6 separate regions of the Homo sapiens genome follow, and regions 1, 2, 3, 5 and 6 are each reported to be linked to region 4. The links are microRNA targets in miRTarBase. Many come from high-throughput screens and were not tested one by one. Region 4 holds a microRNA gene; each other region holds the end of a gene's coding sequence.
Evidence for each region. The annotated mature microRNA hsa-miR-1229-3p reads CUCUCACCACUGCCCUCCCACAG and lies in region 4 at 2,243-2,265, opposite strand. An mRNA with a match to its seed (bases 2 to 7 or 8) in the 3' UTR can be bound and repressed. Matches are read on the target gene's strand: a 7mer-m8 pairs with bases 2 to 8, a 7mer-A1 pairs with bases 2 to 7 and ends in A, and an 8mer does both.

Region 1 (4,084 bases), not on the chromosome of region 4:
TAATCTGGCCTGAAAAGGCTGCATTGAGCAGGCTCATCATTTACAGCTAAGTGAATAGAGTCCTATATACAGTCCTGTACCTACCAACAGATACCATTGCTTTCCTGGGCACTGTCCTAGATCTCTGCTGGAGATTTGCTAGATATCTTTAGAATGAGATATAATTTATGACATTTGCCATTGAGAAACAATTTAATACCAAATATACAAAGCACCTAGCTTCCAGCCAGTGAATTTCAAAATTTTTAAGCATATTTTCTCTAAGTGGATGGATATATACATTTTTAAAAATAAGCCTAAATGTTTTACTCCCAATACATCATTCAAGAGCCTTTTTTTTTTTTTTCAATGGAGTCTGGCTCTGTTGCCCAGACTGGAGTGCAGTGGCACAATCTCAGCTCACTGCAATCTCAAAAGGCTTTTCTTTATGGTACTACAGAATTTCTATAGGTAACTTACTTCACAATATGCAAGAGATATTAGTCATTAGATGGTTTTTATATTAAGGATTATATACAGCCAATGGCTGACTAAGGCAATGAATACTGACTTAATGACTAGAAATTTGCCTGGCTTAAAATTTACTTTATAATGCACCTATTGACCTTAAACTTTTAGAGTTAAAGAGTTTCAAGTATTTTGACCAAAAATTGTAACTTGGCTAGGTTCTGTACATGTCACTTTATCATAAAAGTTCTCCTTCTCTTCGATTAGTATAACACTTAGCAGACAGAAACATCTTTACATTCCCTAGCACTATCAGGCTTTTGAGTTATAAATGGTGGCAAAGCTACGGGAAAACAGCAACTTTTAACATAAGAGTAATTATTGATGATGTATACATCTCGAATGCCCTCCTGGAACTTGTTTTGGTTTGGAAACCATCAAAAATGTTACTAGAAAGTGACATTTATGTTCTGATGAGCAACTCTAAGAAGGATATTGAATCAACTTCTGTTCTCATAAAAAATTAAATTTTTTTTCAAGAATTAACTCCTCTCCCTGGTGGCAGGAATAGCTGCCTAAACAACACTGACTCCTTGGAAAGCACCTAGAATGCATTATCCTGCCTGCCTATTCTCTTGCCTTCATAGTTATGCCTTCAGAAACTCTATGCCAAAATTCACTTATTTATTCTGCCCAACAAATAACACCACTGCATCCCTTACTCACTTCAGTGATTGTGTTATGCTCAAGAACATTAAGACTTGTGGTTTGGGACACAAATCGGCAAGCCACAAGGACTGCATATCTGAGCCTAGAAGAAAATGGTGGCCCCACAACACAGTAACTTGGTTGCAATGACCAAATTCAGACAGAAACCATAGTTTTAAATCTTTGGGATTAACAACAACAAAAAAGATAAAAAGCAAAACTGTCTCAAGAAGATACAGAACATCTAAACAGGCCTGTAACAAGAAGTATGATTTAGTCATTTATAAACTTCCCCAAAAGAAAAGCCCAGACCCAGAGGTATCTGTCAATATCTTTTCCTAGAACATTCCCCAAATCCTTACCATGAAGATATACAGTAGACAATCCGTTGAACATGGGTTTTAACCACTTGGCTCCACTGTTATACAGATTTTTTTTTACTATTATTATTTTGGAGATGGAGTCTCACTGTGTTGCCCAGGCTGGAATGCTGGTGGCACTGTCTTGGCTAACTGCAATCTCCGCCTGCCGGGTTCAAGTGATTCTCCTGTCTCAGCCTCCTGAGTAGCTGGGATTACAAGCGCCTGCCACCACGCCCAGCTAGTTTTTTGTATTTTTAGTAGAGATGAGGTTTCACCATGTTGGCCAGGCTGGTCTGGAACTCCTGACCTTGTGATCCGCCTGCCTCGGCCTCCCACAGTGGTGGGATTACAGGCGTGAGCCACTGCACGCAGCCCAGATATTTTCAATAAATATATTGGAAAAATTTTTGGAGATCTGAAACAATGAGAAAAGTTTCAGATGAAAAAAATTAGGAAAAAAGTAGTTATATCATGAATGCACAAAATATATGTAGATACTAGACTATTTTATCATTTACTGCCATAAAATACACGCAAATCTATTATCAACATTAACACACACAAATACAGATCATACATGGTGCAATTCACAGTTTTGGGAGAAATGTAAAATAATGTAAAGATGCAGTATTAAATCATAGCTGCATAAAATGAACTGTAATACACAGTATGTTACTGAAATAATTTCACAGCCACCTCCTGTTGCTATGCAGTGAGCTCAAGTGTTGTGCGTATGCACTTAAAATGCTGTGACACTAATCACCTGTGCATGAACAACTCATCGCCCCAGTAAACTGCATATCACAGTGCTCCCAAAAAGCAGAGAAAAGTCATGACATTACAAGAAAAAGCTGATGCTTGATAAGTACCACAGATTGAGGTCTGCGGCTGTGGTTGCCTGCCAATCCAGACAGACAATTCATTTTATAAACAGATGACATACACTTATAGTATTGATAAACACAGTAAATATATTTTCTCTTCCTTATGATTTTCTAAGTAACATTTTCTTTTCTCTAGCTTACTTTAAGAATACAGTATACAATATATATAATACATCAGTCAGGCTCCCAGTCAATAACAGGCTACTAGTACTTAAGACTTTGGGGAATCAAAAGTTATATGCAGATTTTTGACTGTGCGGGGCGTAGGGGTGGGTCAGTGCCCCTACCACCTGCATTTTTCAAGTGTCAACTATATATATGTATGTGTACATACACATACACATACACACACACACACACACACACACACACACACACACACGAGTGTATTAATTCCTCAGAAGCCCAGCCAGGCATCTTAGCTTGGCTACTTTTTAATTAGAAACAACTATTTTATTCAGAAAAGTATAAACAGTTAGCAATTAGAATCTTCTTATATACAGACATAACTTGCAGAAGGTTAAGTCTGAGGACGCTGTTCTGGGTAATTTTTACAGTCCTTTTTAGCTCTAAGATCCATGACACTGCATTTTTATGGCCAAAGGGCAATCAATTATGCACCTGGTTGTCTCAATAGGCAGTAAAACCTAATATAAATAAATGACAAATCATCTGCCATAAAAAAATACGAAAAACTTTTGAAATGTTAATTTCAACTCCAATGAAACAAATACCTAATTAAAACAATTATTTATTCCCTGCTAGAATATAAAGGGAACAACAAGCTTGAGCTGCAAGGCTCAAGCTTTGAGAGCACAGAAAGATTTTTAAACTAATAATGCATTTTAAGTCCAAGAAATGGAGCCAGCCCATAATCTCATGTTGGAATTCCCTCAGGCAAAGCTGGAAACCACATCCTGATATCATCTGCAATGCGATCTTCTGTTATTTGGTATTTTTAAGATGACGCCAACTCTTCTGTGCTTAGTTTAGGAGTCCTTTAAAGGAAAAAGTTGAAAAAAAAAAAGATACCACATTTCAGTTCTAAGTCAACGTTAGAATCAACTTCTCCCTCTTTTTCCTCTTCCTCTTCTTCTCTTCCAAGTGGCTAGTAGCATCAGCAAAAAACATAACTTCACTTTTTGCCTCGCATTCCCTCTTGAGATAATCAAGACCAGCCATATTGAAGCCGATAACATCCTGGAGTGCAATACAAGAAATATTAAAAAATTTTCTCCCACTTCAATTCATTATAGCAGCGTATGAGAGTTAGGGTAACCAAAGCTTCAGGTGTTGTTACTTATCTTTCCCTCATTAAGAACTTTTCTTGTTTGTTTTTTCTATTCCTACTAATTCTAACAAAAACTATCTCAAATATGGATTTATCGGTGGTGGGTATTGCTAAAGACAAAGCACAGCATACTATACTATTTCTAAATCACACTAGGAATTTGCCTCATTATTTTATCTCTATACAAAGACACTTACCCGGACTTGGCTGACTTTTGAAATAGTTGTTTCCCTTAATTTTTCTATCACTGGCACAAGCATTTGATTGCTAGTGATCTGTCCAAAGTGAATCCTGATAGAAAAACAAAACACAGCCATGTTGCAGAGAGGTTCTAGCCCTACTTAACCCTTCTAGAAACAGTAAACAGACACAATATCAAAGCAACAACAAAA
Region 2 (4,084 bases), not on the chromosome of region 4:
GCCCTGGGAAAGGGCAACCTCCCTTTCACTGCTCCAGTGGCAGCCATGGGGAAGGCAGTTTGTGAGGGCTTGGGGCACAGACCTGGGGCAGGAGGCAGCTCTTCACGTTCATCCCTGTCTCTCCCGGGCTGCCCCCGCCAGCTCTGGCTGTTTAGCTTGAGGGCAGCACAGAGGCCCCTGGGACACCTACAGGCCAGAAAGATCAACCTCTGTGAAGTGTCTAGAAGTATCTAGTGCAGATGGTGGCGGAGGCAGAATCGACCATCAGCAAACATGAGCACTCTTCCCTTTCTCCCCTTCCACCTGCTGCGGGCTGGGCTGGTTTTCTCAATACAAAATTGTAAGAGGATCCTTGTCACCCCAGCCAGGTATCCCCAAGGCAGAGCACCTCTCGTTTGGCCCTCTGAACAAGGTGCACGCGAGCTGGGGGATGAAGACGGCTCCCACTTCCTTTTCCTTAATAAGAACCATATGGTGGGTGTATGTGTGTACAAGAGGGGTTCATCTGTGGGGGCTTCCTCTCCTTCCACCCTCTGGTTCCAATTTCCTGTTCTAAGCAGGACTAGGGCCCAGGAGGCTAAGGCTGGGAGAGAAAGGGTGCCAACAGGTCCCTTGGGAATGAGTTGGCTCTGGACGTTTCTGCCCTGTTCCCCGATCAGAGCTCCTCTGCAGGAAACAGGCAGGATGCCCCTCCCAACCCCTCAGTCCCTACGTCAAGCGGAGTGGATAAGGCTGAGATGAGTGCTGGGAGTGGTGGACATTCCTGCTCGTGCAAAGATGGCCACTTTCCCCGCAGCTGCAGGGCCTCGCGCTCGGCCCTCGCCAGGCCAGCCCCACTCCTTGTACCAAGTGTGAACTGGGGTCATTCGGTCTGTGATCTCGTTGCACTGCTCCAAGTCTGGCTGTGTCCAGGCGGTCCATGTTGAAAATGGAGGATGGCTGCTGACTTCTGACTGGCTGAGCAGTGGGTTCCTTCAGGTTCCTTGCCAACCCTCCTCCCCTGCCCACAACTTCTCCAAACAAAGCAGGCTGTTTGCTCACTTCTTCAAAAGGAGGAATGATAACCCAAATCTGCCCAAGTGACACTTGAGAAGGTTTTGGCTGGGGTTCCTGGTGGATTTCTTACTACCTAACGCCCAAGAAAACCAACTAAGGACTCTCAAACCATACCTGGTGGGGGTTCTTCGCTCAACCTCTTCTTCCCTAGGTCAAAGCCACTATCATCTGATGTGTTAGGGATGGGTTCTGATTGGCAGAAATTAATCAGCTCCCAATGGGAGCCCACGGAACTAAGTAGGGTCCCAAGAAAAAAAACGGGAGCTATTTCACAGAGCTGAGCTTCTGCCAAATTTCATTCCTCAAACCTTTCAGGAGGGGTGGTTGGCGTTTCTAAAATGTTTATGGGATTTGAGTTGCAGGTGTCCACTTAACTGACTAGCTTTGATAAACAATGTCAGATTTTAACTATGAAAACGACATTACCTTGTGCATTTTTATATTGATTCCTATTTTTTTTTTAAGATTAAAGTTTAAATGTTTTCCACTAGTCATTTCACTTCTAACTTGGTATAGGAAGCTTAGCTCTCTACATACCTATCATGTGCCCTGTATCACAGAAGATTCAGGAAAAATGCACTTGGGAATCAAAGAAAATGGAACTTCTTTTTGAAAAGACAAGCAACCATGTTAACTGTATTGACACATCCTCAATAAAACCTGTTGTATAAAACAGCACTGTGCTGAAACTGATACTGACACAGAGGTATCTCAAGCCTCTGGGTTCTGTAAGGTGTCCAGGAAGCTCTCTGGGGCTTGTGTGCCTGCTCTTAAGGATCATGCACTCCTCACCAGCTCCCTAACCTGGATTTCTGTCACCACCACATCACAAATGCCTGATGCTCGTAAGCTGCTGAGGCCATGCGCCAGGCAAATGCCAGGAGGCATTTTAAGAAACCAAAGGCAGGTAGTGGCTGGAGCTGGGGGCGATGGCTCAATCTTTACTGGAATATTCCTGCAAGCTCTCAGGGCTAGTGGAGCATGACAGCTGGCTCAGTAGTCCGAGGGCCAAGTTTCAACATCTGATACAAATTATGAATGAAATCATGAATCTTTGCTCCTAAGGGCTGGGCTAGTGTCAGGCCCAGTGCTGAAGACAGGCTGGGGGAGCTGTCCTGGGCGGAAAGCACCTGCTCACAGCCTGCCATGCTCAGCCACGAAAGATCTGTCCCTGGCGCTGGGGGTCTGGGTGGCAGACCTGAAGCAATCTGTGTTTTGAAGAGTCCTCAGCCTAGCCAGAACCCTATCTTCACTAAAACAGATCTGCCCGAGAGTGCTGAAACCGCAGGGCAGCTGCAGACTGCACATGCTCGGCTAGCCACTGAGGCTGGATGCTCAGAGAATGTCCCTGGAGTTTGAGGGGAGGCATCTTCCCCCTTTCAATTTTCCCTTCTTCAGAATGGATGCTAGTCTCAGATACTTGGGAACCCATGTGGGAGGATCGCCTGTGCAATAGAGTGAGACCCCATCTCTAAAAACATGCTGTGTAAAACTTCCTTGCAGGGAAAGGCTTTTGATTGGTCCCAAGATACAGGAGGAGGCACACGGCACTCAGTCCACCCGGGGCCCCGTGATGGTGCCCTCCCCACCCAAAGGTTGGTAGTCTGATGATAGCAGGGCCCTCTGGATCCTTCTACAGGGTTCCTGTTCCTGGCCCAGCTGGGCCTAGCTCCTGTTTGGGGAAGTCAGGCTCTGAGAACAGAAAAATCTGGCTTGTTCCTACCCGCTGCCTCTGGCAAAGCACTCGGCCCAGCAGCCTGGGCCACTTTGAGTGATCTCTAACAGGAAAAGCCACCAGACCATGCCTGCTGTGCCCTTCCTGGCTGAACACGCAGCCAGCTGGAGTGCCTGGCAACACAGCAGCTCATGGCCTTGGGGCCCCAGCTTCTATGACAGTGCAGCACAGACAAAGGCACTAGTCTTCAGAGATCAGGCTGGCAGGGGAGAATCCATTCAGGGCAGGAGAAACAAGAAACAGTGGTGAGATTTACCAAAAACTGTTTATTGCGACTTCCACTGGAAGCTGTTAATAAGCCACATGGCAGCCAAGAGCCAGGTGTGACCTAGATCAGCTGGATGCAAGTGCCTGTCCCTTCATCCACACAACCTGCTGCTCGGGGACCCTGCTAGGATGCGCTTGCTGGCAAACTGGCTAAAACCCAACAGGGAGAAATGATGCTACTGCTCATCATTTCCACCTCCCCACATCCCATGTCCAAGACAATACAGGAAAATGCCACAAGTACCCCTCCAAAATAAACCCGCCTGCGTCTGTCTGTCCTACTGAGGAGCCAGGAGTGTCCTACGGCTCTGCAGCAAACCAGAGACCCAGCACCAGCGAGGCACCAGTCCCTTGCTCGCTGTTCCAGTGACCTCCCCTGCAGAGACCCCAGCCTCACCGGTGTACTCAGTCAGCTCCACAATGCAGGAAAAGTGGGAAGCCACACTCAAGGAAGCGCAGGGTTTCTGATTGGAGCTGTAGTTGGTCCCAGGGGACCTGGCAGAGCCCCAACAGCTGTAGCCCTCATCAACTCTTCTGGAAGACACGGTGCAGGCTTTGGGCCAGGATGTCTGTCTCCTCGTAGCCTTCACAGCTTTGCTGCCAGCTCTCTGGCACCTGATCCATCCCATAGTAGGCACCAGCAATGGCCCCAGCCATGGTGGCAATGGTGTCTGTGTCCCCACCAAGTGAGATGGAATAAATGAGAGTCCTTTGGAGGCTATTGAAGGCAGAAGGGATCTCAGGGTCTGGCTCCATGCAGCGTAGGAAGCAGTAGATGGCGGTGGGTACCGACTCAAAGGCAGCAATGCCATTCCCTGTGGGGAAGCCAGGTTAGAGGGGCTGCATGCTTCCCCAGGCCTCCTACCATTTGACACAAGTCAGCACTCTCGGCTTCAAGCAGGCTGTGACTAAGATCTCAGGCTCTACAGTTAGACCACCTGGGCTCAAATCCTGGCTCCACCACACACTGGCTGCGTGACTGGGAGAGTTACCTAGGGGACCGCTAAGCTTCCTGCTCCCAGATTC
Region 3 (4,084 bases), not on the chromosome of region 4:
GGCCAACATGGTGAAATCCTGTCTCTACTAAAAATACAAAATTAGCCAGGCGTGGTGGTACACACCTGTAATCCCAGCTACTCGGGAGGCTGAGGCAGAAGAATCGCTTGAACCCAGGAGGCTGAGGTTGCAGTGAGCCGAGATTGTGCCCCTGAGTGACAGAGCAAGACTCTGTCTAAAAAAAAAAAAGTGGCCAAGTGAGGTCCCAGCTTTGACCTCTGTCACAAAGTACATCAGTGTCAAGAAACTTGTGAGATAGGGCCTTTACACATCATTCTGTGTAACATCTCATTGTATTTAGATATGGCACAGAGAGAAGTGTTTTTAAGATCATAGATCTTGTCTATGGCCATATCACCCTGAACGCACACGATCTCGTCTGATCATAGATCTTAGCTATAGAGGATTCTCATGGATTGCAATCTATGAGAAAAGATCCATCTGTTTCACTCTCTAATCTAAACCTAACCTTGACACAACGCTTAGCATATAGGAGGTGCTTGGCAAATATTTATTGAATGAGATAAACAAATGGACCAATCCAGAAGGAAGAGAGAAGAGTAGGGTTTGTATCTAGCTCAATGCCAAAGGATAAGAACATAACAGGGAAATAAAGTGTTGCTGACAAGCAGCCAGGCTTTTCTATTTAGATAAAAATCATCTCAAGCAGGGCTATCAAAACTCTTTGGAAAGTAAACTCTTAATAGCTTTTTGGCTTTGTACTTCAACCTCTAATCTAACACTACAATTGTTAGACACAAATCAAGCTTTAAAAGCTAGTTGATTTCCTGGTCTCACTAGCCCATGAAAGTTTTCATACCCAAGTCCTAGTTCAATAAAACAAGACAGGACCATCATCAGGAGCAGCTATATAATTTTAATCTAAAGATTTGGGCATACAGAAAGCATTTCACATAAATTCTCTTGAGTCTTTAATTATATGACAGGACATAAGGACCTCAGAAAAATAAGTATCTTCCCATAGATCTTAACCCTTGATCTCTGCAGCAAAGATAGTCCCTGGTAATCCAGGTAATATGGTCTGTAAAATATTAATAAATAGGCCTATTGACTTCTGACTAAAGGACTGCATATAGCCTGAGAAGCAACATTATGGCCCAGTGGTCAGTACTTATATACATGGGCCTTTTGATCCTACATTTTCCTATTACGTAGTTGGGATTGGTAGTTTCTAATCTTCTAGTCCTAAGTGTTATATTTAAGAGAGCTACGTATTACAGTGGGCCTTATTCAAGGTTAGTTTTGTCAAATGTTGCAGAAGAATTCCAGTAATTAAAGTAAGTCATTAATTCTTTATGCTTCAGTTTCCTATCTCTAAATTAGCAATAAGCTCCCATGTTCAACTTCAGCCACATTCAATTTTTAAGAATCTTCAGAAGAAAAAATGTTTCACATATAGTTAACAAGAATGTTGCTTGATAAAGAGTTGGGGCTGAGCTCAAAATAAATCCTGGTATAACCTCCTTCTGGTTGCTCTGGAAAGGACACTGATACATAAGGAAGTAACAAAGATGCAAAGCAGGGAAGAAATAACAGCTTGAAGTGAAGAAATGACACAGACCCCCCACATACACACTTTAAAAACTTTATTTATATAAAAAACTCATTTGTTTTTAAAAGCATTAACAAGACAGAAAGAAAAGAGAAAAGGTATGGAGCAGAACACAAGCCCCTTAGTAGTGTTCGGTGGGAAGGTGGGATTTTTGGTTCTCTGGAATTGAATGTTTAGTGTTTTTTATAAACAAAAGAGAGAAAAAAAAGTTAAAGGTCCCCAAAAGCCCACGGCTGTTCTATTACCCACACCCCACCGAGAAAAAAGAGCACCAGGAAAAGAGCAGAAGAGGACAAGAGAGATCAAGAGTGGAGCCAGGTCTGGATGGGGCAATTTTCCCTGTGCAGTGTGCTCTTAGGGTCACAGAGAGCAAAAGGCTCCTTTTTGCCAGAAAAGGTAGATGAAAGTGGGAAGAAATGGGAAGGGGGAAAAGGGTAAATAAGAAATTTTAATGCACGAGTAAAGGGGGTGGTGGGTTGTGCACTTTTCTCCTACCCCATAGCCTCAATATATAAGGGAAGGGGAAGAGAGGGATAAGGAACTCCAGTTGCATGGAACAGAGCTTTTAGATTAGATTAAGGGGAGTAGAAGGCAAATAAGGAAAAGGATTAGAAATAATAATAATAATCAACCCGCATAGCAGCTGATTTCTCTAGCCCAACCTGCTAATTAATATATGCTAAAGTGAGAGGGGGCAATACTGGAGGGAGGGGAGAATTGGGGAGACCACTTCCCTGTAACTCCTTCAGAGATGATGGTAAATTCTGGGCACCTAAGGAGTAAGAGTCACACCACTCACTTCTCTTACCAGCCTTACTTTGAGATTCATCAGAATAGGATTTTTGCAAAATCCCACCCATATGCTGTTGAGCAAAAGCTTGCTATGACTGAAATCATGGCTATACCAATCCTCAATGAAGAATCTGAGGTTCTCTCGGTCACTTCTCTTCTTTCTGCTATTTAGGGCCAATAGTAGGTAAGAAAGCAACAAAATATAATTTGCAAAATTATGAGAAATGAGACTGCAGAGGCAAAGAAAGGCACATGGAAGGGCGGGAGGAGATGCACCCCAGGCCAAAGGCACAAAGAAGAGGCAAAGCCAGGGGCAATCCCCACCTTGTAAGGGAAAAGGGACAGGAGTTATGTACATCAAGTCCTTTAGTTTGCCAACCAATCCAGGGCAGAGGCAAGGGACAGGCCTATAAGGATAGGAAAAGGAGAAACGGGGGAGTGGGGAAGCCAGTTTCAGACTAATTGCTTCATGTACATTCCTACTAGCTCCTCCTAGAGGTCTTCTTCTTCCCAAAAACACATCTTTCTGCTCCTTCTCTACCAAAAGTCTTCCTTGACATTCTCCCCTTTCTACAGCCTCTTGGAAATGGCCAGGCCAACTCAGCAGACATATCACAGGGCAGGAGAGGTGGGTTAAGGACAGCCTGTGTTTAAGGGGCAGCAGCAATAGCCCAGGGTTGGCATGAGGCTTGCAGAAGAGATGGAGTCTGTAGGTTCTTGATGGTCCCTGCCTTGGAGATGAGGAGAGCAAGGTTTCTTAATCCCAGTTTTAGGAGACCTTCACTTACTCAAGGGTCCTTTGCCAGGTGGCATGTGCCAATGTTGCTGGCCTTCTTTGCTTCAAAAATAGCCATTAGGAATAAGGGAAGAGCTCACACTTTCCCCTCTCTAAAAGAAAATAAAAGTCCCTTCCCCATCAGGAAAAAAATCTTGATTAAGAATCGTCAGTTTATCAGACTGCTGGACATTGCATATACAGCATGTAACTTCCAATTCTTCCCACGGCTTCTAGTGAAGATTCCTATTCTCTCCATCCCTCCCCTCCACAAAAGGCCAGGAGTTCCAGGGAAAACTGGCAAAAAGAACTAATCTGCAGCAGTTTCTCAAAATATGCAAATAATTGAGTCAGGTTTCTTGGGAGAAAAATGGAGGGAATGGGGGAGGGGGAGGCGTTGAGACAATTAAACTTCACAGGAAGAAGTTGGGAGTTGATGGAAAGAAGGCAGCCACTTAGGGCTGTAAGGGCAGGAGGCAGCCTGGCAGTTGGCACAATAGTCCAGCGAAGAAAAAGGAAAATCATCAGTCAATTTCACCACCAAAAAATAAAAGTACATATAAGCCCAGATGGAACGGAGATAGTGGTGCTAAATCTTCTGCTGTGGAGAAAAAAGAGAAAGAGAGAATGTTAATGGGGTTGGGATTAAGGAGACCCCCCCCAAAAAAGTTGAGCAAATCTGGAGAAAGGAAAGCAGCACATAACGGAGAATCAGATCACCAGCTGCATGTCCCAGACTCGTAAGAGGTAATAATCACAAAAGCAGAACCCCTCGAGCCCCATGTGGCTGAGACTACTTAGTCTCTGGCCTGATCAGATTAGCGTGATTGACAAGTTGCTGGCACTCAGGAGCCTCCTTCCTCAAGAACAATCTTGGGGGTGACTGAAGGACATACCATGGAGGGGTAAGACACTTGGCCCCCCTCATCATCCAAAACCAACAC
Region 4 (4,084 bases):
GGGGAGCGGGGCGGGGCCGGGGAAAGATCGCGGGCGGGCGGGGCTCCTGGGGAGCGGGACCGAAGCTGGGGGCGGGCGACGGGCCGGAGCCCAGCGCCTTTGGGGATTCGGTGGGCGAGCCCTGGCGGCGGCCAGAGGAAGTCCCCGTGGGGCCAGGGTTGCGGCGGGGAAGAAGCGGGCCTCCTCGCGCCACCTCCCCGCTGACCGCCGCCCGCAGGCTGGCACCGCTGTACGCGAGCGCGCGCGCCCTCTGGCTGCTGGTGGCGCTGGCTGCGCTCGGCCTGCTCGCCCACTTCCTCCCGGCCGCGCTGCGCGCCGCGCTCCTCGGACGGCTCCGGACGCTGCTGCCGTGGGCCTGAGACCAAGGCCCCCGGGCCGACGGAGCCGGGAAAGAAGAGCCGGAGCCTCCAGCTGCCCCGGGGAGGGGCGCTCGCTTCCGCATCCTAGTCTCTATCATTAAAGTTCTAGTGACCGAGACCCGGGCTGCGTTCTCTGGGTCCGCGGGGGTGGCGCACCGCGGGCTACGGAGCCTGGAGGGGCCCAGCCCGAGTCCGGGCAGCCCGGGGCGGGCTTCCTAGTGGCGGCGTGAGAGTGGCTGCGAAGGAACGAGCCCTCCCCCTGGGGCGGGACTGGATCCGGTCTTCACCTCCTACCCCACTCCCTACTCAGCCTCGGGGTCACAAGGCCGCCCAGTCCTGCCGGGGTTCACCCTCCTAGCGCTCAGCGGTCTCCTCACCGGTCCCCCTCCTCAGGGGCCTTCCCTCGACTCTCAGCCGCCGCAGTCCCTCGTCCCCTGGCCTTCACAGCTGACACTAGATAGAGCCTGTGGCTCTCTCCCCAGGTGAGGGCAGGGGTTTTTCTTTTGGTCAGCACTGGATCCCCCTCGTTAACTGTAGGTGTTCAGGGCAGCCCTCCGAGGTCCGCAGAGCTGCGGGCACCATGGGAACGAAGTGAGTCAGTGACAGGCGGTCTCAAGGAAATGTCCAGAAGCCTTGGGGATCCAGGGGAGGCCCACAGAAACAAAGAAGTGACTTTTAGCCAAGTATGCAGGAGAAACGGAGAAAGGAGAGCTTTCCAAGGAGGGGCAACAGTGTGTGCAAAGGCCCTGAGGTGAGCGGGAGACCCTAATGTGCCAGAGGAGTGTCGGGGACCCAGGATGAGGACCAAGCTGAGACACACGGAGGGGAACAAGGAGGCTGGGAAATGCCTTCAGCTTGAGGAGCTAAGGGAAGGCCTCATCGCAGGCCTTGGACATGGGGGAGACATTCGGGGGACCTGCTATAGGCATTGTGGTCCCAGATTCTGAGCTGGTTTCACCAGTGACAGACTTTGCGGCCTGATCCTAGGAAGGGGGGTACGCTGGCGCCGAGGTGGCACTGCAGCTGCACAGCCAGGGGCTGGACCCCGCGCCTGCAGGCCAGGCTGGCTCCTTGACTTAGCAGGGAAAGGTCGCTGCTGATGCTGGCTGGGGAGGCCCAGTGCCAGGCTTAGTTGGCATGTTGGGGCACAGACCAAATGAAGCCAACCGCAGGGGCAGAGGGAGATGCCCAGGGCGCTCACATTTGAGGCACACACTTCATTAACCCTTTATTACAAGTCACGCTCTTATAGAAGTATATGTGGACTTACGTGAAAAAATCAAATGTATCCAAGAATAAAAAACACAGCACATAAAGTAGTATATGCATTCCAGTGTTCGCGCCAGAGACGGCGGGCGCCCAAGTAAAAGCTCTTCTAAAACGGCCTGACTGGGGCAGGCCGGGTGCGAACGGTTCCGGGCCTCAGGCACAGTGTGGGGGCCGCCTGCCTCCTCCGCGGCCCGGCGGGCGGGGGCAGCACCAGCTCCTAGGGCCTCCGGGCCAGCGGCGGACCCCAGGCCGGCCCAAGCCCGACGCCAGGCAGAACCCTTTGGGCGGGGCCGTATCTGGCCCTCCGGGGACGGCAGTGACGACACCCCCAGAAATGTGGGCTTCAGGGCTGGCCACAGGGTACCCTCAGAAGCCCGCAGCTTAGTCGGCCTTTTTCAGGAAGATCTGGAAGAGCCGGACCCAGGGTCAGCAGGGCCTCTGAGCTCCGCCAGGGTCTCCCTGGCTGCTCCCCGTGCCTGGCCTGGCCCTGCCCAGCCTCACCTCGCTCAGAATCACCCACACAGGGGAGTCCGTCTGGATCGAGAGGCGCAGTGCTTCCAGAGGGCCGAAGGCTGGGTCCACCTCTCCCTCTGCCACTCCCTTGTAGAAGGAGCCTGTGGGAGGGCAGTGGTGAGAGGGTGTCCCTGAACCCCAGCCCACGCTCTCCCCCAAACCCTACCCACCGATCTGGAGGTAGCCGTCGGGGCTCCGAGGGTACCGGAGGGTGGCGGTGCGGCCCTCCTGCAGGGCCTCCTTGTCTGACTGAGGGTTCTGGGGGCAGAATCAAGGGCTGAGGCAGGTGGTCACAGGAGGCCCGGCTTCAGTGCACACCACACCCACCGAACTTACGTCGAAGGGCAGCACCTCCACAGACGTGTTGAAGAGCTTGTCCTCCGGGTGCTCGATGTTCCCACTGCGGAAGAAGAACCTGCAGCCAGGCAGGCCTGTGAGCTGCTGCAGGGGCAGCGTTCCAGCACAGCACCCAGGGCCCAGCAGAGAAAGGCCAGGCCTGCGCCAGGAGGGCCCCCCAGGCAGCTGTCAGGCTGTGCAAAGAGACCAGGGCCTTCCTCTGGGAGGATGGTGACAGGAAACATCCCTGAGCTCCTAGGGGCTGCCTGACTTAGTCCTCACAAGGTAGCTACCATTACGAGGCCCACTTCAGATGCGGAAACTGAAGAACGTGAGGATAACTTGCCGGTGAAGCCTACACCCTGGGGGCCACCCAGCCCCGCCCCCATCGCAGACCCATGGTGCTGGCACTGACCGCTCCAGTCTTAGAGGTTGGAAGAAGCGGAAGCGGATGAAGTCCCCCGCGGCAGGGGTGAAGGCCCAGAAGAAGTCCTCGCGCAGGTAGGCTTTCTCCAGGGTGAAGTGCTGGTATGTCTTCAGGCTCGTGCTCACCTCTGCTGGCGGGTTCACATGCTCCTTCCGCAGCGCCTGCTTTCCAAAGTCTTTGTCCTGCAGCGGAGGAGGGACAGCAGTGATGGCGTGGGCCCCGACCTTGATCCCGGCCTAGGGAGAGCGTGCAGTGCAGCCCACCTTCAGTTTCTGGATCTTGCCAGCCAGCGAGGAGTGAGTGCCCACGTGCTGGAAGAGGGACGGTTTGAAGCGGATCCGCAGGTTGGCTTTCTGCCGGTCACAGTGCTTCTGTGGAGGGTGGGCAACACCCCAGGGCTCGGCTTAGCCCTCCTTCCTCAACACGGCCTCTCCTGGGGACTACCAGGGCCCTCCCACAGCTGACAGTGCTCTATGTGAGCAGATGCAAGGACAGGGACACAGTTTGGGGTGGAGGCTGCCTGCCCCTTGGCCCTGCCCCTGCCAGTCCCGCCAGCTCTTGCTCACCGCATCCTTCTCGGGGTTGCAGACTTTCACCCACAGAATATGGTCCAGGAGCCAGTCGATGGGCTTGTCCCGGTAGAACATGAGAATGAACTCTACAATCAGGCTCAGGTCCAGCGACTTGAACATCTTACCTGGTGGGGAGGGGCCTGAGTGGGCAGTGCTGCTCTGCCTACTTCCTTTCTCCCTGCAGCGGCCCCCGAGTCCCACAGCAAACCCAGGGGCAGGCTTCAGGCAGGTGTGGGCATAACGGGGCAGGGAGGCAGACAGGTGATGAGGGCAGACATGTCTGATGCACAGGCAATGAGAACAGGCCAGGTGGGGCTGTAGCACGCACACCAGGCAGGGCCCACCTGGGCAAAGGCTCACAGTGGACACAGTGGGACTGGGAGAGAGGATGGCAGAGGCAGGTGGGACTGAAAGGCACCGTCAGGTAAGGGGAGGGGCACACCAATGAAGCCCAGCTGGGAGAACTCCAGGATCATCCAGTCCTCTGAAGGCTGCTGCAGTGCAAAGTTCTTCATGGTGCTCAGGTAGTTGGGCTTGGCCACGATGTCATCCTCCAGCTGCGAGGTGAGCAGAGAGGGGCTGGGGCTGAGGAAGGGCACCCAGATGGA
Region 5 (4,084 bases), not on the chromosome of region 4:
AGTCAATAGGCCCATCAGCGAGGTGGGACATGAGCCCCATGCCTGGGCTACCCGGCAGTCCCAGGAGGCCAGCGGGGCCGAGGCGTGGTACTCAGCATGCACCAGGGGTGGGGCAGATCCCACGGGTGGGGGGCAGGGCCCCAGGCCAGGTCACAAGGCCACGGCACTGGTTCTGCAGTGACCCTAACCTGCCTGTCTCTGTGTGTGGTCCACAGCCCGAGACCGAGGACGAGAAGAAGCGCTTTGAGGAAGGCAAAGGGCGGTACCTGCAGATGAAGGCGAAGCGACAGGGCCACGCGGAGCCTCAGCCCTAGACTCCCTCCTCCTGCCACTGGTGCCTCGAGTAGCCATGGCAACGGGCCCAGTGTCCAGTCACTTAGAAGTTCCCCCCTTGGCCAAAAACCCAATTCACATTGAGAGCTGGTGTTGTCTGAAGTTTTCGTATCACAGTGTTAACCTGTACTCTCTCCTGCAAACCTACACACCAAAGCTTTATTTATATCATTCCAGTATCAATGCTACACAGTGTTGTCCCGAGCGCCGGGAGGCGTTGGGCAGAAACCCTCGGGAATGCTTCCGAGCACGCTGTAGGGTATGGGAAGAACCCAGCACCACTAATAAAGCTGCTGCTTGGCTGGACCCACGTGTCCTGGGTGGTCATTTGTCTTGGGGGGGCTGCTTTCCCAGGGGGTGTGGGACATTGGGGCTCCCGTGGACAGTCTCAGCCCTCCCAGCACCAGCACCTGCATGTACCCTAGAACCTCAGGCACAGCCACACCGATTGGTGTCCGGCTGGTGACTTGCTGGCTATGAATGCCCATTTCCCGTGGGTCCCTGGTTTGGTGTCCTGGCCCCAGACACCCTGGCTCCCTGGACCTCATAGGCAGCCCAGATGCTGGGAGGATGTGGGCTCAGGGCCACGCTGCCTGGTGGGAGTGCCAGCACCCCACAACCCCCCTGTCTGGCTTGCAGAGGATGCCGGCTCTGAGCCTGTGTGGCTTTCCTATGAACAGGGTGGGGCTGCTGGGAAAGACTCAGCGAGGTGATGGTGTGGGAAGAGCCAAATGTGGCCTGGCTCAGCGTGTGGGAGCCCCACCCTGACCCAGCCTCTTGCTAGAAACTGCCTAGACACCCCAAAATCCTGTCTGAAGGAGCCCCCCAGCTGGCGCCAGGACTCTGTGCCTGACGTGGAAACTCCCCCAGCCACTCAGGCAGGAGTCTGCTGGGATGGCTTATAGGGCAGGGGTCTGAGGGACAGCACGAATGTGTGTCAGTGCCGTTGGTGTGAAGCTGTGGGCATACGTGTCACTGACATATCTGTGCATGTGCGTGTGCATCTGTCTGCATATCTGTGAGCACGTGTGTGGTGAGGGTATCGGTGTAGCAGGGTTGATCTGTGCATCTGGCCCAGCCAAGGCCACTACAGGGACCAGGACCCCACCTGCATCCATGGCTGAAAAGGAGGCCCTCCAATCAAGCACACCCAGAAGTGGCATCTGGGAGAATGTTCCCAATTCAGTCTGTCCCTGAAGCCCCAACATCTGTCCTGCCGCCTGGAGAAGACTGGCCCGTCAACAGCTGCGGCCTCGCACAAGGCTCCCTCTGGCCCCTGGAGAGCGAGGACTCGGCTCCAGATGTGCAGAAACACCAGCCAAGAGCTTGGGAATCTGTCCCGGGCCCCAGTCACGGCTGACGGGGTTATTTCCTGTCTGGGAGGGGGTTGGAGGTGGGAGGGACAAGCTCAGCCACATGAAGCTTCTGCCACGCCACCATGCCCCTTGGCCCCCCGGGGCTGGCCTCAGCCAGCCTCGGCCCCCAGCTCCACCCATGACCCATGCCAGAATGGTGCCCTGGGTTCAGAGCAATGAGGAGGCCACCCTTCCCAGCTAGCAGAAGGCCCAGGGCTGGCCACAGCAGTGCCTGAGCCCAGGGGCTCACTGAGGGGACCAGTTCCCCAAAGCACCCACACCCTTCACTTGAAGTTGGGCCCCGCATCAGACTCCCTAGTTCAGTCCTGGCTCAGCCACTCATCCGTGTGGCTTTGGGCAAACCAGGCACCTGAAAACCGCCTCCCAGGGGCACCGGGCACTTTGCAGCAGAACCCAGCACAGCACGAAATAAGCCAGGGCCCCGGGGCGGCCATCAGAGGCCATCTCCCACCTGCCCTAGAGCCAGCTGAGGCCGGGCAGAGGCACTGGTCCAGGCAGTGGGTCAGCTGGGCTGGCAGAGGGGAGCCAGGCCCAGACAGAGGCATGGCTCTCCATGGCTGTGTGTGCAATCTTAACCGTGGTGTTTCTAAGCGGCATGGCTCTCGGTGGCCATGTAATTAAGTGTGGCGTTTCTACCGTTTCACCCCGAGTCACAGGCGAGACACTTAGAAACACCACCCTTGATTACAGCTGCCCTGTGCCAGCCTCCCACTGCTGGTGGCCTATTTATAACCAGGACCACCTGGAGGGGGAGCCAACCTGTCCACAGAGGGCTCACTGGGGACACTGAGGGCCCTGGCTGCCCGAGAAACCACAGGGAGTATAGGTGTGCATGGCCCCAGATTCCCCCTTGCTCAGCCCCACACGTTATTGCGGGGCCTTTCTCTACAGACACTCCTCTTTTTGTCTCATGGGACGGACCCTAAGACCCATCCTGGGCCCCCTAAAAGCTGCTCAGGGACCTGGGGTGTGGGGACGGTTTAGGCAGGTGCAGGCTGTGGAGCAGCCCTGCCCGGACTGGGCAAGCTCCAAGCATCCGTTTTGGCTGCAATTGGTTTGGGTCTCCTCCTGGTCGGGTGCCTAGTTTCCTCCAGACACAGGGGTGCCTAGTCATGGATGTGTCCCAGAGGCACGGAAGGACACTATGCCAGGCAGCCCCAGAGGCCTTGTGCCCATTGTGTGTGTGGTCAGGTGCTTTCTAGAAAAGACAGGCACGATCCTCAGGAGGCGTCCTCTCCAGGGCCCCCATCAAGAAGCAGGAGGCTTTCCGCCTGCATGGGGCCAGCTGAGGCTGTCAGTCTGTGGGTGACAGCCTGTGCTCTATGAGGAGTGGTGATAGCATGAGGGCTTGGGAGGGAGGGGCGGAGGGGCGGGAAGAATGGGAGGAGGGGAGGAGGGGAGTAGGAGAAGGCTTCAGGCGCTGGGCTGCAGACCCTGGCCTCTCCCGGCTGGGCGGTGGTGCTCAGAGTTTCAGAGAGAACAATTTCTGAGCCTGTGGGGGTGGCGGGGACCACTCGGCAGCCCGGTGGCCCGTGCACTTTATTCCCTCAGTGGACCCCCCAGGCCCGGGGAGCAGCGTGAATCCGTAACTGGCCCAACCTTGCCCCTCGCTGCCCCTGCTTCAGACTGGATTCCCGGTTCCTAGAAGCCGCTGGCCATGCGTCCCTTGTCCTCTCCACGCCCCGCCCCGATTGTTCATCTTAGATGCGGCTTCCTCCAGGAAGGTCTCCCTGAGCCCCAGCCCTGGCCCCAGGTTCTCAGTGTCCATTCCTGCCCCAGCTCCCTCTGGCCCCCGGGCCCCCAGAGCTCCGGGCCTGGGTCTTGCCCCGGCGTCCGAAGGCGGCGTCCGGAGTGTGCACCGAGCCGAGCTGGGAGCCAGGGGCGCGGCGCTGTCAGGAGGCGCCACCAGCCCAGGGAGGCTCGGGCCGGCCGCGGGCGGACGCGGGGACACGGGTGGGCTGCGTACGGACGGACTGACGGAAGGACGGACGGGCTGACAGACCGACAGACGGCCGCGCCTCTGAGCGGGCGGGGGCGGGGCGGGCCGAGGGGCGGTGCGGAGGCCCCGGCGGAGACATGCGCCCTGCTCCGCCCCCCGCCCCCGGCCGCCCGGCGCAGCAGCGGAGCGGCGGGAGCTGAGCGAAGCGCGGCGGCGGCGGCGGCGCCTAGGGGAGGGAGGGGCGGCGGGGCCGAGCCCACCTAGCGGAGCGCGCCGGCCGCCGGTGGCCGCCGCCAGCATGCCCCGGCCCGCGGGCCGCTCCGCCGCCAGCCACCCCCGCGGCCCTCGGCGGCCTGCGCTCGGCCCGGGGGCGCGGGAACCGCAGCCGGAGCCGGAGGCGGGAGCAGCGAGCCGGAGCCCCGGGCGCTCGAATGCA
Region 6 (4,084 bases), not on the chromosome of region 4:
CTCAGGATGGCAATTGTAGCCTGAGATGACGTAGCCCAAGTTGCACAGCAGAGTTGCTGTTCTGGAAACACTGTGCTGAGTGACCACCGACCTTCACAGTGCTAGTGTGCTTGCAGGCTGTGGCCAGGAGTAGTGTACACGAATAACTGCTGGCTGGTGTCTCATGGCTTGTTTGAGCTCTAGAACACTCAGCATTTGGGGACTTTTGCTATTTAGGTGTCTCCCTTGAAGTTTGGTTACTACTGCCTTAAGGAAATCAGAGAGCATGAAAAACTTGCGTTCTAATTTTTCTTACTCTTTTCCAGGTGCTTCTCAGCTTCACGGGAAAGGGCCTGCTGTACCACGGAAATTGTGACCGCTTCAGAGGCAAGGCTTGCCACTTGGGTCTGGGTGGAATCAGAACGTGCAGGTCTCCCAGGATGTACACTCACTGCGCCCTTTCTGCTGCTTGGTGTTCTTCTGGAGGAGCGTGAGTTCTCAGCGGAGCGCTTCTCGGCACTTCTGATGTGCCTCCCATGGAGGGAGCCGGGCCCTTGCTGCTCAGGAGGTGCAGACTGCCCCGTGCTCTGGGCCTTGCAGCTCTGTCGCTAGACGGTTGTTAGAGGGGCAGCTCTAGGCTGGGGCTTGCGCTGGGCCGTGGTGGGAGGCACAGTGTTTACAGGCTCTGGTGGCAGAGCAGTTGGCACACCTGTGGGTGAATCTGCCTGATCCCCTGGCATTTGGTCAGAGTACCTCAGAGCACCCCACTGCTCAGGGGCTCCTTCTGGCTGCAGTAAGCTCCCTGGATGGTCACAGTGCCGCCCCATCCCCAGGCTGTGTGCTCAAAGCGGACAAAACTCAGGCCAGAGCCACAGCTGGGAGACCTGCACTGTCCCTGCGAAATACTAAGAACACCTAGGGTGTGCTCACTGTGGGGGCCAGTTTCTCCTCGGAACATGACAATGAAGCTCTTTTAGAGAAAAGACCTTTGTAGATTCAACAATTATGATAGGATTTTTACAGACACCTATTTTGGGCTCAGTTTTCATCATTACCATTAAATGCATTGGATAGAAGGGGACTGTTCTTCACACATCATATTATAGGAAGACATAATTCCAGTGCCTTTATGGTGGAGCAGAATTCGACAACACATGTCCATTCAGCCCTCTGAATGGATCTGAGACGAAGACCTTTTTAAAGATATGTCTGTATTGAAGAGAAAGCCAGTTTTGAGTTTTTTACACTTGCACATCATTATCTGTGCCGTCCTGACTAGAAGGTTGTCTGGGCCCCCAAATTCCAAGTCCCAGTATAGCCAGGGCTCCCATTTTGTTTTTCCAGAGTTCGTGGAGGTGGACTGCAGAGCCCAGAGCCCTTCATCTCTCTGAGGGTCAAGGATACCAGGGGTCCCAAGTCACAGATAGACATTCCAGTTTGTATTCTTAGGAATCATTCTTAGGCAGTGCGGCAGAAGCAGGCCTCTGTGAAGTGTCTGCCGGGTAGAAATAGGCCTTGAAGTCCTGGGGCTCTCCAGGCAGTGGGGTTATGTGTCGACTGAAGGGTGATGTGCAGAAGAGCTTGGAGAGTGGATCAGAGAGACTAGGACAGTTACTGCAGAGCTCCTAAGTCACCACTCAACCAGTGGCTGTTTCACAAGGATTTGAGGGCACTTGCCTGTCTTGTGAGGTCTGTGCCACAAGGTGAGTCTGAACTGACTGCTCCAGCTAAGTGATCAGGCACGTTGAGAGTATACGGTGTCCTCAGCACATACACCTGTGGGAAAACGGACCGCTCTTGGCTCCTGACTCCCAGGGTACAGCGCCCAGTAACTCATCCTTCATTCAGAGGTTTGCTGGCCTTCCCGGTTTCCCAAGGAGCAAGACCTCTGTCCGCCCTTTGGCCCGGCCTCTGCTCTGTCTCCTTTTTTTACATAAGAACCAATCCGTGTTTCACATTGGGCTAAGTGGATTCCTTATCCCTTTGTTATATATATTTTTTGCAACTTGGATTTCCAGTTTGTTTACAGAGTAGTCTTAGGTAGTAGCAAAAGAGCCAAAGAAGAGATTTGTATTGCTGAGCTCAAAGCCAAGCAGAGGCCGGCAGTGGAGGCTGAGCAGGGACTCTCCAGGCTTCTCTGCCCATAAACACCCGGGTCCCAGGCCCTCCTTCCTTTCCCTTTGGTGCTCCCTCCTCCCCACGTACCATTGCGCGTGCAGCTGGAGCAGAATACCCTCATTTTTAGGAATCTAGTGATGCCTCTTGCCTCAGGGAAACGTTTCTTTGATGGGGAGTTTGAGATTTCTTTTCCTTGTTTATGCTTTATTTGTGGTAATGAAAGAGCGAATGACTGAACAGCCATGGCAAGGCAGACCTACAGGCGAGGCCGCAGCAGAGGGTGGGGCAGAGCAGCCTCGGGGTCTGGGGGCTGCAGGGGTTTCCCTGGCGCAGCGAAAGTCTCTGAGCACTTACCGGGCGTGACCGTTTCTTAGGTGTGAGAGGGGCTGTGGCTTTTGTGCAGCGACTATGTTGGTGTTAGGGGTGGTGTGGAGATTGTTAATCTTGTATAAAGCAATTCAATAAATTGTTTCAAGGTTTCCAAAACATTTTTTCTCACTCTTTTCTTTCTACCATGTGGAAGTAAGTAGTTCTTCCTGTAGGAGCTGTTACAGATGGAATATCCATTTTGGCTGAAAGCCAAGGGGGGGGGGCGGGGGAGTAAGCCTTGCATGCAAAAGAAGAAACATGTGGACCGTACAAGCAGACTCCAGCCACCAGGTTTATTTTCATGCTATAAATAAATTTCCCTATTAGTTCCCATTTTCTTATGTTCTACATGAGATACAGAGACCCAGATATTGGCGTGGTGAATAATCAACTGTTTTGTATACCTAAATACCAGTGAGATAATAAGCGAGACTTGTAAAGCACTGAAACTAAGGCTAACAGCAGCACAATCCACTATCAAAGGATTTAAATGCCAGAACTGTGAAACATTCTCTGTAGGTGCCGGGACAGTCTGGTGGCTGACAATTAACGTCCACTCCAGCACCGAGGGCTGGACACTTGTGGTTTCTGTTCACCTTTCCTGGCTTGGAGCCCAGATCTGTCTCATGAGCAGAGTAACTACTGAGGAGGCTTCTCGGATGGAAAGTTGGTTTTAAGCCAGAAATCTGGAGAGATGTCATGCCAGGCAGCAGCCCCCACGGGCCCAGGCCTTTGTGGGGCAGTGTCACTGTCTGGTGTGCCACCAGTACCCATGCTGCAAGGAGTGGGCTTGGCTGCTGTGGTTGGCTTGTCCTTCAGTGGTTTTCAGATTGTGTGCAGTTATCATGAGGAGTTTGTTGCTGGGAGTGTACAGGAAAAGGGAGGAAAAGGCATCGCAGTTGTCCAGTCATTGGAGGATGAAGTACGTCACTCAGGGTGAATGATGGTTGGGACGAGAGTTGCCTGTCTTCAGCCAGTGCCTGTCTCATATGTGGGCGGGACTCTGAGCAGCCTGGCAGCGAGGGTATGTATAAAATGCTTGGCCTGCACCAGGGCAAGGGAGAGGACGACACCAAGGAGGTCACTGCGTCGTAGGAGAGGGCCAGCGTCTGCCGTTACGAAGAGTTGCAAGAGCTGTGCCTACTTCTGCCCAGATACCAAGACCGCCAGCTCCTGGATGGACATATCCTTGTTGACATAGCGGTCATACTGAGCAGGGGTCAGCCTGCCACTCTGCAGGGCCTCTTCGATGGAGAACTTCTTGCCAGACTTCCTGTCGTGTATCACTGAGGACTCCCCATTGGGACCCTTCACTGAGATCTCCTCCCAGTCGCACTCCTGGCTTCTGAGTTTCACGAACATGTTCCAGTCAATGAGCCCGGCACGGTGGGCTTCCTCCGGGGACAGCTCGCGGCCTGTGTCAGGGTGGATGACTACGATGGAGCGCCGCAGGTGGTTCTCCCGCTGCTCCCGCTTGACGGCCACGGAGCCCAGGCGCTTCTGCAGCTCGTCGATCTCGAGGTCTTTGTCCTTGGAGAGCCTCTTGAGGTCATCCAGTTCCCTCTCCAGGGACCACAGTCTGGAGTCATGGTTGGTCCCAGAGTCCGCCACGGTCATG

Region 1: the mRNA of WDR3 is a reported target of hsa-miR-1229-3p. The part of its 3' UTR that is shown has no 7-base or 8-base seed match.
Region 2: miRTarBase lists ADPRS as a target of hsa-miR-1229-3p. The part of its 3' UTR that is shown has no 7-base or 8-base seed match.
Region 3: miRTarBase lists CTNND1 as a target of hsa-miR-1229-3p. The part of its 3' UTR that is shown has no 7-base or 8-base seed match.
Region 5: miRTarBase lists ACOT7 as a target of hsa-miR-1229-3p. The part of its 3' UTR that is shown has no 7-base or 8-base seed match.
Region 6: the mRNA of PPL is a reported target of hsa-miR-1229-3p. The part of its 3' UTR that is shown has no 7-base or 8-base seed match.

What each region holds. Positions count from the first base shown.
Region 1 is chr1:117,958,809-117,962,892 of GRCh38, reverse strand. WDR3 (WD repeat domain 3) reads right to left here. Exons shown (of 27, transcript NM_006784.3): 26 at 3,890-3,983; 27 at 1-3,601. The coding sequence ends at 3,446. The region is part of intron 48 of SPAG17 (sperm associated antigen 17); the gene reads left to right. Among named protein-coding and RNA genes, the nearest start is that of WDR3, 31 kb to the right of the region's middle.
Region 2 is chr1:36,092,886-36,096,969 of GRCh38, reverse strand. ADPRS (ADP-ribosylserine hydrolase) reads right to left here. Exons shown (of 6, transcript NM_017825.3): 6 at 3,038-3,873. The coding sequence ends at 3,584. COL8A2 (collagen type VIII alpha 2 chain) reads left to right here. Exons shown (of 4, transcript NM_005202.4): 4 at 1-1,731. Among named protein-coding and RNA genes, the nearest start is that of ADPRS, 6.0 kb to the right of the region's middle.
Region 3 is chr11:57,815,954-57,820,037 of GRCh38, reverse strand. It overlaps CTNND1 (catenin delta 1), which reads right to left. Exons shown (of 21, transcript NM_001085458.2): 20 at 4,037-4,084; 21 at 498-3,741. The coding sequence ends at 3,730. TMX2-CTNND1 (TMX2-CTNND1 readthrough (NMD candidate)) reads right to left here. Exons shown (of 21, transcript NR_037646.1): 21 at 858-3,741. Among named protein-coding and RNA genes, the nearest start is that of CTNND1, 56 kb to the right of the region's middle.
Region 4 is chr5:179,796,036-179,800,119 of GRCh38, forward strand. It overlaps MIR1229 (microRNA 1229), which reads right to left and starts at 2,311; the gene lies at 2,243-2,311. It overlaps LTC4S (leukotriene C4 synthase), which reads left to right. Exons shown (of 5, transcript NM_145867.2): 5 at 218-612. The coding sequence ends at 359. It overlaps MGAT4B (alpha-1,3-mannosyl-glycoprotein 4-beta-N-acetylglucosaminyltransferase B), which reads right to left. Exons shown (of 15, transcript NM_014275.5): 8 at 3,919-4,033; 9 at 3,471-3,601; 10 at 3,168-3,275; 11 at 2,893-3,086; 12 at 2,478-2,556; 13 at 2,312-2,399; 14 at 2,130-2,242; 15 at 1,575-2,033. The coding sequence ends at 2,010. RefSeq lists silencers at 1-265, 306-355, 376-535, 380-591.
Region 5 is chr1:6,260,827-6,264,910 of GRCh38, reverse strand. ACOT7 (acyl-CoA thioesterase 7) reads left to right here. Exons shown (of 9, transcript NM_007274.4): 9 at 216-639. The coding sequence ends at 314. It overlaps GPR153 (G protein-coupled receptor 153), which reads left to right and starts at 3,813. Exons shown (of 6, transcript NM_207370.4): 1 at 3,813-4,084. RefSeq lists silencers at 3,574-3,893, 4,074-4,084.
Region 6 is chr16:4,879,778-4,883,861 of GRCh38, forward strand. PPL (periplakin) reads right to left here. Exons shown (of 22, transcript NM_002705.5): 22 at 2,730-4,084. The coding sequence ends at 3,607. It overlaps UBN1 (ubinuclein 1), which reads left to right. Exons shown (of 18, transcript NM_001079514.3): 18 at 306-2,624. The coding sequence ends at 355. Among named protein-coding and RNA genes, the nearest start is that of UBN1, 34 kb to the left of the region's middle.